4 linked regions of the Homo sapiens genome follow. The protein of the gene in region 3 purifies or fractionates together with the protein of the main gene of each other region. This does not show direct contact. Each region holds a gene or a part of one and is shown on either strand. Other genes may lie near its edges.

What was found.
Region 1: the proteins of TXNDC12 (region 3) and TUBGCP6 purify together in Homo sapiens (affinity purification with mass spectrometry; 2 studies listed by BioGRID and IntAct, with this or other methods). This does not show direct contact.
Region 2: the proteins of TXNDC12 (region 3) and TUBGCP3 purify together in Homo sapiens (affinity purification with mass spectrometry; 2 studies listed by BioGRID and IntAct, with this or other methods). This does not show direct contact.
Region 4: the proteins of TXNDC12 (region 3) and MZT2A purify together in Homo sapiens (affinity purification with mass spectrometry; 2 studies listed by BioGRID and IntAct, with this or other methods). This does not show direct contact.

What each region holds. Positions count from the first base shown.
Region 1 is NC_000022.11:50,224,439-50,228,235, reverse strand, and holds part of TUBGCP6 (gamma-tubulin complex component 6), read left to right. Parts: intron 1-207; coding exon 208-329; intron 330-1,158; coding exon 1,159-1,237; intron 1,238-1,393; coding exon 1,394-1,503; intron 1,504-1,857; coding exon 1,858-1,949; intron 1,950-2,046; coding exon 2,047-2,186; intron 2,187-2,292; coding exon 2,293-2,442; intron 2,443-3,643; coding exon 3,644-3,725; intron 3,726-3,797. UniProt on the Homo sapiens protein: Component of the gamma-tubulin ring complex (gTuRC) which mediates microtubule nucleation.
Region 2 is NC_000013.11:112,522,069-112,525,865, reverse strand, and holds part of TUBGCP3 (gamma-tubulin complex component 3), read left to right. Parts: intron 1-3,356; coding exon 3,357-3,546; intron 3,547-3,797. UniProt on the Homo sapiens protein: Component of the gamma-tubulin ring complex (gTuRC) which mediates microtubule nucleation.
Region 3 is NC_000001.11:52,038,103-52,041,899, forward strand, and holds part of TXNDC12 (thioredoxin domain-containing protein 12 precursor), read right to left. Parts: intron 3,496-3,797; coding exon 3,435-3,495; intron 1-3,434. UniProt on the Homo sapiens protein: Protein-disulfide reductase of the endoplasmic reticulum that promotes disulfide bond formation in client proteins through its thiol-disulfide oxidase activity.
Region 4 is NC_000002.12:131,483,375-131,486,640, forward strand, and holds the end of MZT2A (mitotic-spindle organizing protein 2A), read right to left. Parts: intron 2,808-3,266; coding exon of another isoform or gene 2,728-2,807; exon of another isoform or gene 2,650-2,727; intron 845-2,649; coding exon 687-844; 3' UTR 586-686; downstream 1-585. UniProt on the Homo sapiens protein: Required for the recruitment and the assembly of the gamma-tubulin ring complex (gTuRC) at the centrosome.

The DNA of each region.
Region 1 (3,797 bases), on a different chromosome or scaffold from region 3:
GCCACAGCTTCTGGCTTCTTGTGGATGGGCCGCATTTCCACCTGGCCCGGTGGCGGGGTGTGGCTCACAGAGGCCCATTGCTTGGAAATGGAGCCCAGAGCTGAGGCAAGAAACAAAGCGCTGTTCCCAGCACTGGTGCCCCTCAGGCCCTGGGCACGGCTGCGTCCATGTGCCTGGCCGCCCTCCTCCCAGCCTCTTTGCCCACAGGCCTTCACCAGTGGCCTGAGGAGGTACCTGCAGTATTACCGGGCCTGCGTCCTTTCCACTCCGCCCACCCTGAGCCTCCTCACCATTGGTTTTCTCTTCAAGAAACTTGGCCGGCAGCTCAGGTGAGCCTCAGCATGGCGGCTGAGCAGGGGACTTTGCGGGAGCGGTGTGGGGCTTGCTGGGTGGTGGAGGGTTTGCCCTGCTCCCTGGCAAGGAGGGCCTGTGAGAACAGCCCTCAGCAGGCGACCGGATGGCCCTTGGCCGGCCGAGTTCACCAGGTGCCCGGTGCTGAGCGGGTGTGTCTGCCGTGGGCCCACCACAGCTGGCCCCATCCAGGCCCTCCAGGTCCGGTGGCTCCTGCCTAATTGGCACACAGGGTCCCTGGAGATGTGGCGTCCGGTACACACAAGCTGGTTAGTGAGCAACCAGGCTCGGGGGCTATTGGCAGGTGCCATCAGAGAAGGAAGAGTGAGGAGCTGGGCATTGGGAGCAGTGGGAGAGGCGACCTTCCAGGCTGAGGAGCAGAGTGTGGCAGCGCTGAGGAGACCCAAGGGCTGAGACACTGTGGGGCAGGGGAGCTGGGCTGTGAAGGGTGCGAGTTGTGGCAGATGCTTGGTACCACTGTGTGGATGGGAGGGGCTCTCAGGTGCAGCCCCCAGAAGTGGGAGGATCAGGGTGATTCGTGTGTTGGCCAGATCCTGGGAGGGAGGGCCTGCTGGGTGTGGGTACTTCAGTGGGGTGTGTGTGGACAGCGCAGGGGCACAGGGCTGCACACGAGTCCTGCAGGGAGCCCGTTTCTGGGTGGTTGGGGTGCCTGTGGTTTTTAAAGCCTGCATCTAAAGTTAGTTGCCCCAGGGAGCATAAAGATACGTGGAGACTTTGCTCACGATCTGATCCAGGCCTGGGAACCCTGAGCCCGGTCACCTGGTCTCATCCTGCCTCTGGGTCTAGGTACCTGGCCGAGCTCTGTGGCGTTGGCGCTGTGCTCCCGGGCACCTGTGGAGGAGGCCCCAGGGCCGCGTTTCCCACCGTGAGTTGTGCGTCCCTGCCGAGTGTGTCAGCCTGGTGGGCTCCAGGAAACGGGGGTGGCTGAGCGTGTCCCTGGAGGGCTGCTGCCGGCAGGGCTGCGCCTCACTCCCAGCGCTGGGTGCGCTGAGCTGCCCCCCACCCCCTTTGCGGTCTGCAGGGCGTGAAGCTGCTGTCCTACCTCTACCAGGAGGCTCTGCACAACTGCAGCAACGAGCACTACCCTGTACTGCTGTCCCTGCTGAAGACCAGCTGCGAGCCCTACACCCGGTGGGCAGTGGGCTGGGCAGGCGCGGCGGGCGCGCACTCCCACCAGGCAGACACTTGAGAGCGGTCCCTTGTCAGACACCTGCTGAATGTGGGGGTCACACAGGAAGGGGAGGGCAGGATAGGTGGACTGGGCAGGAGCCCCCAACCCCCCACCCTGCCCCCACTCCACACCCCCCACCCTGCCCCCACTCCATCCCGCCCCTCATGGATGGCCACACCCCACTCCACCTCTCACAGCTACGCCCCCACTTGCCCCTCACTGACAGCCACGCCCCTGTCCCACCCCTCACTGACAGCCACGCCCCACCCACCTCTCCGTTGACCACATCTACCCCTGCTTTTCCCCCACTGCAGGTTCATCCACGACTGGGTGTACAGCGGGGTGTTCAGAGACGCTTATGGCGAGTTCATGATTCAGGTGAACCACGAGTACCTCAGCTTCCGAGGTAGGTGGCAGCTGATTGCGGGGCAGGGGTCCGTGCCTGTGGGCCTGGGTTCAGGGCCATGGCCATGCCGGCCACCGTGGTGTTCACCCTACCTTAGATAAGTTGTACTGGACACATGGCTACGTGCTCATCTCCAAAGAGGTGGAGGACTGTGTTCCCGTGTTTCTGAAGCACATTGCCCACGACATATACGTCTGCGGAAAGACCATTAACCTGCTGAAGCTCTGCTGCCCCCGGGTGAGGAGGGGCTCATGTGTGGGGAAGAGAGGGGCCGGTCTTCCCTGGGGCTGAGTATGAGGCTGGGGCTGAGTGCTGGTGGCTGTGCTTGCATCCCCTTTGGCAGCATTACCTCTGTTGGTCCGACGTCCCTGTCCCCCGGATCTCGGTGATTTTCTCCCTTGAGGAGTTGAAGGAGATTGAGAAGGACTGTGCCGTCTACGTTGGGCGCATGGAGAGGGTGGCCCGCCACAGCTCTGTCAGCAAGGAGGAGAAGGTGCGTGGCACCACAGGTCTCGGGGGCTTTCTTCGCCCCTGCCTCTGCTTCCTGGGGTCTCAGGTTGGTGGGGCGGACATGAGGGCTGTGCAAGATGGGGGCCTCCCTTCTGGCATTTTCTGTCCTGGCGGTGGCCTGGGTGGGTGCCAAGGGGGAGTTGAGATGAAGGGTGGGTGTCAACGGGGAGTTGAGATGAAGGGTGGGTGCCAAGGGGGAGCTGAGATGAATGTCCGGAGCCAGATGCCAGGCAGGGGCTCTGACTTCTCCTCCTGGGTCTGGGTGGCTCAGCCTGAAGCCCAGGCTTTGCTGGCGTGGGAAACTCCGTTGGGGCCTCCCCGGGCCCGCCAGCTGTGGACAGACAGTCCTGGCTGCACTCCAGATGGCCTTCGCCCTTTGCAAGCCCCCTTCCTGCTGGGAAGGGACAGTGTGTCAGGGACGGGCCACGCCTCTCCTGTGTCTTCTGGGAGGGGCTCGGTGGTACAATCAGTGCCATTCCCAGGAACACCCTTTCTGGCCTGGTGCCTGGTGGGCAGCAGGGATACTTGGGCAGGGGCAGGCCTAAGAGGCTGAGCGGGGAAGCCCCCTCTTGAGGCCTCTTGGTTTCCTTCCAGGGTGGGCACACACAGCCTTGGGGTCCTCAGCCCCAGATGTCTCTGTGAGAGCCGGTCAGCTCCCGTCCATGGCCTGGAACCAGCCTTGCCACTGCTGAGAGCCTGGGGGTGGGGGAGGGTGGGCGGGGGGGCGGTGTCCTGCCATCACCTGGTCCCTCCTCGAACCCTTGGACCATGTGTCTCCCCTGCCGGCCCTGAGTCCACAGGTGTCCTGGGCATCCTAGGTGAGGGGTCAGAGGATTAGGTTGCTTTTTTTTTCTTTGAGACAGGGTCTCACTGTGTCAGCCAGGAGGCTGGAGTGCAGCGGCTCGAACATGGCTCACTGCAGCCTCCACCTCCCAGGCTCAAGGGATCCTCCTGCCTAAGCTCCCCTGACCCCCGCCAAATAGTTGATACTACAGGCACCTGCCACTACACCTGGCTAATTTTTGTATTTTTAGTAGGGATGGGTTTTTGCTATGTTGTCCAGGCTGGTCTTGAACTCTTAAGCTCATGTGATCTACCCACCTCGGCCTCCCAAAGTGCCAGGATTACAGGCGTGAGCCACTGCGCCCGGCCAGGATGCTTTGATTACCAGTTGTCTTTCTCAGGAATTACGTATGGAAATTGCAAAACAAGAATTAATCGCTCATGCCCGGGAAGCAGCATCCAGGGTCCTGAGTGCACTGAGTGGTGAGTGGCCCCAAGTCCTCCCTTCTGCAGTTCCGGGGGGCCTTGCTGGGGCCTCCTTGTGACAGTGCGCCC
Region 2 (3,797 bases), on a different chromosome or scaffold from region 3:
TAGCTGTTTTAAAATGATAAAGTGGCAGTGTGCCAAAATAAGAAATAACAGAAAAAATATTGCTAATGGTAGCCTATTCTTTGGGATGCAAAGGCTTTGTTTGGAGAAGAGCCAGGACTTATTGCACTTATTGTGTTTATTGCATTCAGAATGTCGCATGAGCGTTCAGCCTGTGGGAAGTGCTGAGGCTTTCCCTCGTTCTCTTCCTTTTCCCCATTTGCCGCCTGCCCCACCCTCAGTAATTTCATGATGTTTTGTGTATGGCTAACTTATATTTATAGCTCTCCAGTTTTGGCTGTATTTGCTATTTATATTGTCATGGTTCATTCAAAAGATTTACTTTGCGTAGGACACTGTGGTAGCTACAGGAAAGAGACAATGACTTCACCATGACTGTTCCTTTCATGAGCTTATTAGTCTGGTCTTGGAGAGGAGATGTGTAGTAAAATAACCAGTAGTCAGTAATAAAGGTGAAAGTGATCAGGGACGTGAGATGTGCAGGTGAAGCGCTTTGGGTATTTTCAGGCAAGGCTCAACAGGAAGGCTTTGGAAAGAGGCAGGAATTGCACTGGCCATGGAGAAGGAGGAGAATTTGGTTGTGGGTTATTGCGCAGCCCAGGACAAAGGAATAATGTGCATGGAAGTGCAGAAGAGAAATAGGACGAATTAGACTTATCTAAAGATTGTAGTGAAAATAAAAAGTTATTATTTAATAATGTGACAGACTAAAGAGAGACAGACTAGGACCTCATGTAGGAAGCAGGATAGGTTACTGGGTATGGTTTTAGCTACAGGTGTTACTGGAATGACAGATGTTCTCTTAACAGGACTTGGCTCTCTGGACAGGAGGGCTGGGGATCAGGAAGAGTCAGTGATGGCACTAGAACTCTGAGCTCGTGAGGCCAAGTCGGAAGGGCAGCAGGGGATTTCGGGAGAGCATAGCACTGAGAGAGGAATGTCATTTCGGGCAATTTGGTTTTCAGTAGCTGAGAGGACTTACTAGTGGAAGCTTCCAGCATGTATTGGAAATGCTATACTGAAACTCTGGTTAAAAGTCAGGGCCGAATATAGAGATTTTGGAAGCACTTATCTCACCATGGTAACTCAGGACAAGGCAGGATGGTGTAGCAAGAGCTCCCGTGTGGTCCAGGGGAGACACCCTTTCCAGGCATGTGAGAGCCATGGGCCCTCTCACCCTAAAGCATTCAGACATAATTTTACATGTATTTTTTTGTGGGGGGGTACATAGACCCCAGATTGTTCCTGGAATAGAGATAGATGTGATCCAATATAGATTTTGGGGAAATGCTTCTACACTGAAGAGGTGGAAGGAAGAAGAACCAGGAGAGCAGTTGTGTTCGAGTTGTGACCTTTCATAGTTCCTAGAGAAGGCGGCGCACACATGGGCTGTGCCTGGGACAGGGCGTCCCCATGCGCCTGCTGTGCCGGAGGCTCTCCATGAAGGTTGCTGCTGCTTGTGTGAGCACCGCGTCTGCTGTGCTGCTGGCGGCCCCTGTACCCACCGCCCCACATCTGCAGATTCAATCAACTGAGGATCAAAAACACTTAAAAAAAGGCAGCCACTAAAAAAATACACAAAAAACCAAGACAATTTAACAGCTATTTGCATAGCATGTACATTGCGCTAGATATTATAAGTAATTTAGAGATGATTTACCGTATATGGGAAGATGTGTGTAGGTTAGGTGCAAATATTGCTTCATTTTGTAGAAGAGACTTGAGCATCAGGGAATTTTGGTGTCTGTGGGGGTCGTGGGATTGGTCCCCTGCAGATGCTGAGGGTGACGGGGCGCTGCTGCTGCTGACGCTGCTGCTTCTCTGTGACGACTCCTGTGGTCCCCGTCGTCCTGTCCATGGCTGCCAGGGTCTGCGGAGAGCAAAGTTTCTGCTGTTGAGTATTTATAGTATAACTGGGAAGACAGAAGATGCAAATCCTAAAAGACTCCTAGTAATGGTCAAAAAACAGGAGAACATGTCAAATTCATTTTTATCTGTGAAAAAGTTATGAAGATTTAAAAGTGTGAATAAAGAATAAATAGTGAAAATTTAAAAACTGAGCACGAGAGATGCCTCAACCCTGAAGGAGCAAAGAGAGTTCCGAGGAGGCTCTGGGTTCTGTGTCTTCATAGGCTGCTTTGGGCTAAGACTGATTCAAACCTTCTCTTTGGAATGAAAATTTTTAATGACTCAAACAAGGGTGTAATGAAAACATTTCTAGAGAAAAATCTTTATGTCATTAAAACTACGTAGATCAATGGAAATAGAACCCCATGCCCTTAAAACAGGACTGTGGTGAGCTCATCAAGGGGTTCCGTGGTGTCGTGACTCCAGGCAGACCTCACTCATCCTCAGATAACTACAGTTTCTTCACTGGGAGCATCTTAGTTGTTTGCTACTAGTGTGAAATTGGAATAATAGCAACACTAAAATAGGCCTGTCTTAACTGCTTTCTTATTCGGAAGGACAAACAAATCTTAAGAGTCTTCTGGTATATTTAAACTGGGTAACTCAGATAGTGGAAAGAGACTTAAACTCTGAATCAGAAGATCTCGCCTTTCTTGTCCTTGCTTAGTCTTCAGCTAGCGTTTTGCCTCCTTCTCTCAGTCTGAGGTTGTTCCTCCCACTGGGGTTATTGTCTAGCTTAAGTATTATTGTGGGTTTAATGAAATGAAGTATTCATATAAGTTTTAAAAATGGTTTTGTGCTTTGCAGATGTAAATCAGCACTGTAAGAAGCTCTGTTATGTGTATAGTCTCCACCTGCAATTTCTTCTCAATAGAAAGCTATGGAAATGCTTTCTTCCGCTATGTTACTGCTTAGAGTCAGGCGTCTTTATTGGTGACAATCTGGTTTTGTCCCCTAGACATCTCCACCAATCTCCGTAGAGTTCACTCTATGGTGCATGATACTACTACTCAACTTTTGCGAGTTGTACAATTCACAAAGCTTATTTGCATGTGCTGTTTTGGTCTTAAGACTAATTTATGGAAACATCTTATGGGTATGGACGGGTGACTCAGCACTGACTTGCCCTATTACCAGTGTGTTTTGGTGAGATTTACGGTTAGTTACAGTGTATTAAGGGATTTGGAAATCATGAAGACACACATGTAGGTGTCTGCTGTGAACCCAGCTGGCAGAATTGTTTTCATGTGTGTGGTCTTAGGGCTCTGGTCTCCTTTGTGGAATGTCCAGCTGTCTGTGCCTGCGGTCAGTCTGTTACTGATGCCACAGGCAGTGGTTGGCCCTGAGTCTGGATGTATGTGCCTTCATTTCTCCTCTGTGGAAATACAAATTACATATGCATGTGTGCTCTTCCCTGTTGTTCTTTACAGCTGCAGACCTATTCACAGACTTGGAAAATGCATTTCAGGGGAAGATTGATGCTGCTTATTTTGAGACCAGCAAATACCTGTTGGATGTTCTCAATAAAAAGTACAGCTTGCTGGACCACATGCAGGCAATGAGGCGGTACCTGCTTCTTGGTCAAGGAGACTTTATAAGGCACTTAATGGACTTGCTAAAGTAAGGCACTATTTTGATTTCTATAAATAAGTAATATATTTGACATGATAAGGAATCTTGTATTTAAAAGAATAAATTATATTAAAAGAAAATGAGTTGAATTCTTCGAGCATACTTTTTAAAATAAAATCTGAAAAGAATGTAAAATTTTCAAAAGGTAAAGCCCCTTCATTTTTCTCTGGTTATCAGCAGAGCATCATTGTCATGTTCTGTGCTTTATTCATAAGAGAAACTGGCATTTCTTTCCAAAA
Region 3 (3,797 bases):
CTTTTTGTAGAGACAGAGTTTCCCATGTTGCCCAGGTTGGTCTTCCTTACTATTAATGTCCTTTGTGGCTTTTTTTTTCCAGAGTAGGGTACCTTAATCTGCATTAAACACCTGTTCAGGCAGATATCCTTTCTCTTCAATGATTTTCTTAACGGTGTCTGAGAATTCATCTGCTGCCTCTTGGTCAGCATAAGCTGCTTCTCCTGTATCTTGTTTTTTTTTTTTTTGAGACAGGGTCTCACTCTGTCACCCAGGCTGGAGTGCAGTGGGGGGATCTCGGCTCATGCAACCTCCGCCTCCCAGGCTCAAGCGATTCTCCTGCCTCAGCCTCCCAAGTAGCTGGGATTATAGGCATGGACCACTACCACCTAGCTAGTTTTTGTATTTTTTGTAGAGACGGGGTTTCACCATGTTGGCCAGGCTGGTCATAAACTCTTGACCTCAAATGATCCACCCGCCTTGGACTGCCAAAGTGCTGGGATTACGGGCAACACTGCGCCCAGCCTGTCTTGACATTTTTTAAGCCAAACCTCTTTCTAAAATCAGCAAACCATCATTTGTTGTCATTAAATACTCCAGCTTTAGATCCTTCACCTTCTTTTTGCTTTAAGTTGCCATATAATGACTTTGCTTTTTCTCAAATCATATTAGAGTCAATAGGTATGCCTTTTTATAGTACCCATGTAAAAGCTACATATTATGCACATAAAAAGGCATTTGGCAAAAAGTGCAAGGTTTTTGCACCTGTTGGCATAGCTACAGTGACAACTTCATGAATTTTCTTTTTTTTTTCTTTTTCTGTTTTTTTTTTTTTTTTACGCAATTGGTCCTTACGCTGGATTTATCTTTAAAAAAATTTTTTTTTGTAGAGACAGGGTCTTACTTTGTTGCCCAGGCTGGTCTCAATCTACTGGGCTCAATCAGTCCTCCTGCCTCAGACTCTCAAAATGGATTCATCTGGCCAGGCCAGAGCAAGACACCGTCTCAAAAAAAAAAAAAAAAAAAAGGGTTCATTTATCTTGAAACGACAAGCAACTACCTGTGTAGACCTCAGTCTACAGTACATATCAAGCAATTCAATTTTTTCTTGTAATGTCATGAGCATTCTCTGCTTCTTGGGAACACTTCCAGCATCACCAATGGCACCTTGTATGGGTTTCATGGTGTTATTCTAGGTTTATGATATTGTACTAAATACCAGGAAAAATATGCAAGAGTTGTAAGAGATTAATTTTTTTTTTTTTGAGACCAAGTCTCGCTCTGTCTCCCAGGCTGGAGTGCAATGGCGTGATCTTGGCTTACTGCAACTCCGTCTCCCAGGTTCAAGCGATTCTCCTGCCTCAGCCTCCCAAGTAGCTGGGATTACAGGCATGCGCCCACCATGCCCAGCTAAGTTTTTTGTATTTTTAGTAGAGACAGGGTTTCACCATGTTGGCTAGGCTGGTCTCGAACTCCTGACCTCAAGTGATCCACCCACCTCGGCCTCCTAAAGTGCTGGGATTACAGGTGTGAGCCACCGCGCCCAGCTGAGAAACTACGTTATACTGCGATACGCAATACACTGGAGAGACGTACTGCTCACTGAAGATGATTAATGTTGCACGGCATTTTAAGTGGATACTCACAATACTTGAGTTCACCTCCATAGCAACAGGAGGTGGCCACAAAATTATTAGTAATGTTATATACTACAGTTAATTTTTATGCAGTTATGATTTAATATGGCATCTTTACATTTGTTTACATTTCTCCCTTCTGCAAATGGCAGCATGTGTGGTCTATAGGTGTTTGTGTGCAGAAGTTTTTTATTTTTTTATTTTTATTTTTATTTTTTATTTTTGTTTTTTAAGACAGAGTCTCGCTTTGTCTCCCAGGCTGGAGTACAGTGGTGCAATCTCAGCGCACTGCAACCTCCACCTCCCGGGTTCAAGTGATTCTCTTGCTTCAGCCTCCCCTAGTAGCTGAGACTACAGGTGCACACCACCATGCCCAGGTAATTTTTGTATTTTTAGTAGAGACGGGGTTTTACCATGTTGGCCAGGGTGGTCTTGAACTCCCGACCTCAGGTAATCTGCCCGCCTCAGCCTCCCAAAGTGCTGAGATTACAAGCGTGAGCCACCATGCCTGGCCAGAAGCTTTTTAGACAGGGTCTCACTCTGTTTCCAGGCTGCAGTACAGTGGCATGGTCTTAGCTCACTGCAGCCTCAAACTCCCAGGCTCAATTGATCCTCCCACCTCAGCCCCCTCAAGTAACTGGTATTTTTTGTAGAGAAGGGGTTTCACCATGTTGCCCAGATTGGTCTCAACCTCCTGGGCTCAAGTGATCTGCCCGCCTCAACCTACCAAAGTGCTGGGATTACAGGCATGAGCCACCGCACCCAGCCAGTGTGCAGAAGTTTTGATAAATTTTAACTTGTAGATTTCTGTATGTTTTATGGTAGTAAATGATAATATAGACTAATACCTACATATATTTTTACACTTGTAACATACCAATTTTTTAAGTTTTTTGATATTTCTAGGCTATGCTGTTCATCTGCAAGTTTTTTGAAACTGCTTGAAATCTCCAAAACAGTTTCCAATGCATTTATTACTGAAAAAAATCCACATATAAGTGGACCTGTGCAGTTCAAACCCATGTTGTTTGGCCGGGCGTGGTGGCTCACATCTGTAATCCCAGCACTTTGGGAGGCCGAGGCAGGTGGATCGCCTGAGGTTGGGAGCTCAAGACCAGCCTGGCCAACATGGTGAAACCCCGTCTCTACTAAAAACTACAAAAATTAGCCGGCAATGGTGGCACATGCCTGTAATCTCAGCTACGTGGGAGGCTGAGGCTTGACAAGAATTGCTTGAACCTGGGAGGTGGAGGTTGCAATGAATGAAGATCGCACCACTGCACTCCCGCCTGGGTGACAAAGCAAGACTCTGTCTCAAAAAAGAAAAAAAAAGGCCGGGCGCGGTGGCTCACGCCTGTAATCCCAGCACTTTGGGAGGCCGAGGCGGGTGGATCATGAGATCAGGAGATTGAGACCATCCTGGCTAACACGGTGAAACCCCGTCTCTACTAAAAATACAAAAAAATTAGCCAGGCGTGGTGGCGGGTGCCTGTAGTCCCAGCTACTCGGGAGGCTGAGGCAGGAGAATGGCGTGAGCCCAGGAGGTGGAGCTTGCAGTGAGCCGAGATCGTGCCACTGCACTCCAGCCTGGGCGAGAGAGTGAGACTCCATCTCAAAAAGAAAAAAAAAAAAAGAAAAAAAACCCATGTTGTTCAAGGCTCAACTATAAATGTTAGCCATTATTATTGCTGTTGTTGTAATTAGGCAACTATTCAGTTCTTGCTCTGCCTTGGTATAGCCCTTCACCTGAAATTAACGTTAAGTTGATAGCTGAAAAGTGTTTTACCACCATAAATGACCTAAAACCATGTCTTGTACCTGGCAGCTGCTTCTTTCTTCCCATCTTCCAGTGTCCTCCAATGAATATGATCTCCAAAACCTGGAAGGAAAGAACTTTATAAGCATTCACATAATGAACAAAGGGCACAGTCCCAAGAAGGAAGTGTGCATGTTCACAAGATACCCACTAAGAAGGTTTTCTTCTGTCAAGAGCTTGGTGTTCAAGTCCCAGCTCCACCACCTTCTAGGTGTATGGGACCATACCTCAAGCCTCAGTTTTCATACCTGCAAAATGGAGACACCACCACCTAATTCACAGTTTCAAAGGAGGCTAAATTTAAAAATGACGTTAAATGCTTTGTAAACTATCACGGAATATGCTAATAATACTGTAAGAATGAA
Region 4 (3,266 bases), on a different chromosome or scaffold from region 3:
ACAACACACCCATGCTGACCCCAGTGCTCCACAGTAACCTGGAAGGCAGCGTTCGCCCTCTGTGCGTACACACAGCAACCCTGTCCCTCAGCACTGTCAACTGTCTTGGTAGAAAACCTCCCATGAGGTGGGAGATCGAGACCATCCTAGCTAACATGGTGAAACCCCGTCTCTACTAAAAATACAACAAAACTAGCCGGGTGTGGTGGTGGGCACTGTAGGCCCAGCTACTTGGGAGGCTGAGGCAGGAGAATGGCGCGAACCCAGGAGGCGGAGCTTGTAGTGAGCCAAGATCGCACTACTGCACTCCAGCTTGGGTAACAGAGCAAGACTCCGTTTCAGAAAACAAACAAACAAACAAACAAAAAACCTCCCACATTTCACTCCAAGTGAAGCTTGTTGATGTCTATTTATAAAAGACCTGGCAATCCAGACACCTTTCCTCAGAACCCAAATCAGGTTCAGGAAGTTGACCCATGGTGAAGGGACCTGGTTAGTTCACTGTGGCACAACCAGGACCGGCACAGAAACTTCATTCTAAGTGTGCCTTAATATAAAAAAAAAAAAAAAACAGTAGAGAGCATCTGACCTGGACCCTCTGCATCTCAGAAAGGTTTATTATCAACTGAAGGAGGTAACATGTAGCCTTTGCTGGGGACAAAGATGTGACAAGTCTCTGCCCCATCCTAGGTGCTGCCCTGCGTAGGGCTCTTCCCAGGCCCGCCCCCCTTGGGCAGCCTGGTAGCGCTGGGCTGGCGTGGCATCCTCTGGCTGGATCCCTCGTGGTTGCTGCGTTCCGCCAGGGCCAATACTCCCCCGAGGGCAGCGCTGCCTTTGTCTCTCCCTAAGGAGACACAAAGCACAATGATTAGGAATGGACGCGCCCCATAAATGCAGCACCTGCTGTACTCGTGCTCCTTGGGCAACATTTGTGTCTACACATTTCCATCAAAGTCGCTTCAGCTAGAGGCCCTGCATCAGCCCCAAGTCCTGAGACTCAGAACCACTAAAGACAGGTCACGCCCCAGAAGCCCTTGGCAGTGTGCAGGGGACCCTTTAGGATGTGTCCTAGGAGCGAAGCCACGCAAGGAGCACACTGCCAAGGGAACATTTTGAAAGGACACATGCCACGGGCCCATTTAGGGAAAGGTAGGTGTGGTGGTCCACACCTAGCCTGGTCAGCAAACCTAGTCTGCCCTGATCGTGCCATCAGCGGCAGCAGCAGCAGCAGGGACGCGCTGCCTCATCCTCAAGGTGTGTTCACGCTGGACTGCACATCTGAGCTGCCCCAGATGGTGACAGGCAGGAAGTACTGCAGTCACCAAGTCCTGGAATTGGGTTTCTGATTTTGATTTTGGAAGCTCTTTCATTGTTTCCTACCTACCCGAGTGTTCTGCAGTGGTCAAGCCTCTTGCTTTCGGGTTTAGCTGCCAGATTCCATGACAGGGTTCCTGCCACAGTCTGAACGCTTGAGACTTTCCTTCTGAACACCAGAGGCTCTCTCGGATGAAGACCACAGGTTCAGAGTTTCTTTGATTTGTAATTTGCTTACTTTACTCTTTAAGATAGCCAAGAAAAATCTGCAACCACACTCGGGCCAGAGCTTTATTTTAATGGGATGCATTTCCCTGGGCTCAGGGTGTTGACAGCATCGGCAAGACTGAGAGGACCCTCCAAGGTACAAACGTGCCCGGGTAGCAGGCTTGCCCGTGGGGTCACAGCCCCCCATGCGGAGTGCCTTGGCCAGGGCTCTCCCCTGCTCTGGCCTGGTGGGGTCTGACCCGTGGGCTCTAAACAGGGCGTGTGTCCCCTGCCTGACTCAGTGTTGGGTCCCCCATTTCATCCCCCCAGCATTTCCTTTGTCCTGACTGAGGGAGTGCCTTGACCACTCTGACCTAATCAGCTACATGTTCCCCCTGCAGGCTCAAACCCTGGCTGGGGCTTGCATGTTCCCAGACACTGATACACGTTTAGGTTGTTGCCTGGAACACTGAAAGATCTGACGTGTTGCTAAGCACGTGGAAACTGGTCCCACCCCAGCCAAATTCCTTGCACCCTCATAGAAACTCCACACCCCACCCCCTCAGTGCGGTGTGCCTAGGCACAACCTCTTTCCTGGCTGTCCCTCGTGAGGGCACGCTGCAGCCCCCTCTGTATATAAGCTCCCTAACAAATGCTTTGGACTGACCACCCTGGCATTAAGTGTTTCTTCCTTTGGAATCCCAACTGGCTCTCATCTTGGAAAGGTTTGGGGCAGTCCCGTGTGGGAACTCCCCTGCCATCACTTTTAGGGTGACTCCAGACAAGGGTTCAGCCAACAGAACACCCAGCCTCAATCCTGGTCCTTCCCTGGCCTCTTATCAAGTGTAGTCAAATACCCTGCAAAGGGAAACTGGATTCCTGGAGAAAAGATGCAACCGGGTGTCTAGGGACCCATTAGGTCATTTGTTTCACCATCTGTCACCCTGAACAAGCAGAGACTCCTGTGTCTGAGATGCCGTGGACCCCCGCTCTTCCAGAGGTACCTCCAGCTCCCTTTCTATGCTAATACCACAAAATTCTCCCCATACCCTGCAGGGATAGGACGGCCCTCCTTATGAGTTTCCGGGGAGTTCTTCCTCAGAGAATGAGATCTTTGCTCATTCTTGCCTGGTGGTGGTGAGGGTTACAGCGGTGTCATGCTGGGAACTCTGTCAGCTTGTCACACTTGGCTGAACAAAGATGGAGTCAGGGTTGCCCTGAGCCAAGGAGGAGCGCAGTCAGGAACACGTGGTGGGTGATGATTGGCCACCTCAGCCCAGCAGTGACTAGTGAAAAAGGCACAAAGCAGACAATAGCCACCACGCATCTCTTGTGGTACAAACTGCCATAATTCTAGTCCCCACTGACTGGTCAAGGGGCAAGGATTCTGTCTTCCATGAGCAGACGGGACCCACCACCCTGCAGCAGCTCCCACACTGGGCCAGCATCCTCCTCTGAGGCCACAGTCCCTCTGCAGGCCAGGCCAGACAGTCAGATCTTCTGTAGCCGCAGCCTAATCTGGGTGCTTAGGTGCCCATGCGCTCTCAGCTCCCCACAGCACGCAGCATGGCAGGCCGTGCACCTAGGCCTGACTCAGAGTCGGCTTCCCTTCAGTTTGCCGCCATCTGAGCTTCCTCTCCTCCCCTCAGTAGTGACCCAGTCCCTTCTGGAAACAAGGATGACAGCGAAGCAGAAAAGAGCAAATAATGCTTTTTTTTTTTTTAAGAGTGGTGGGGGAGGGGGGT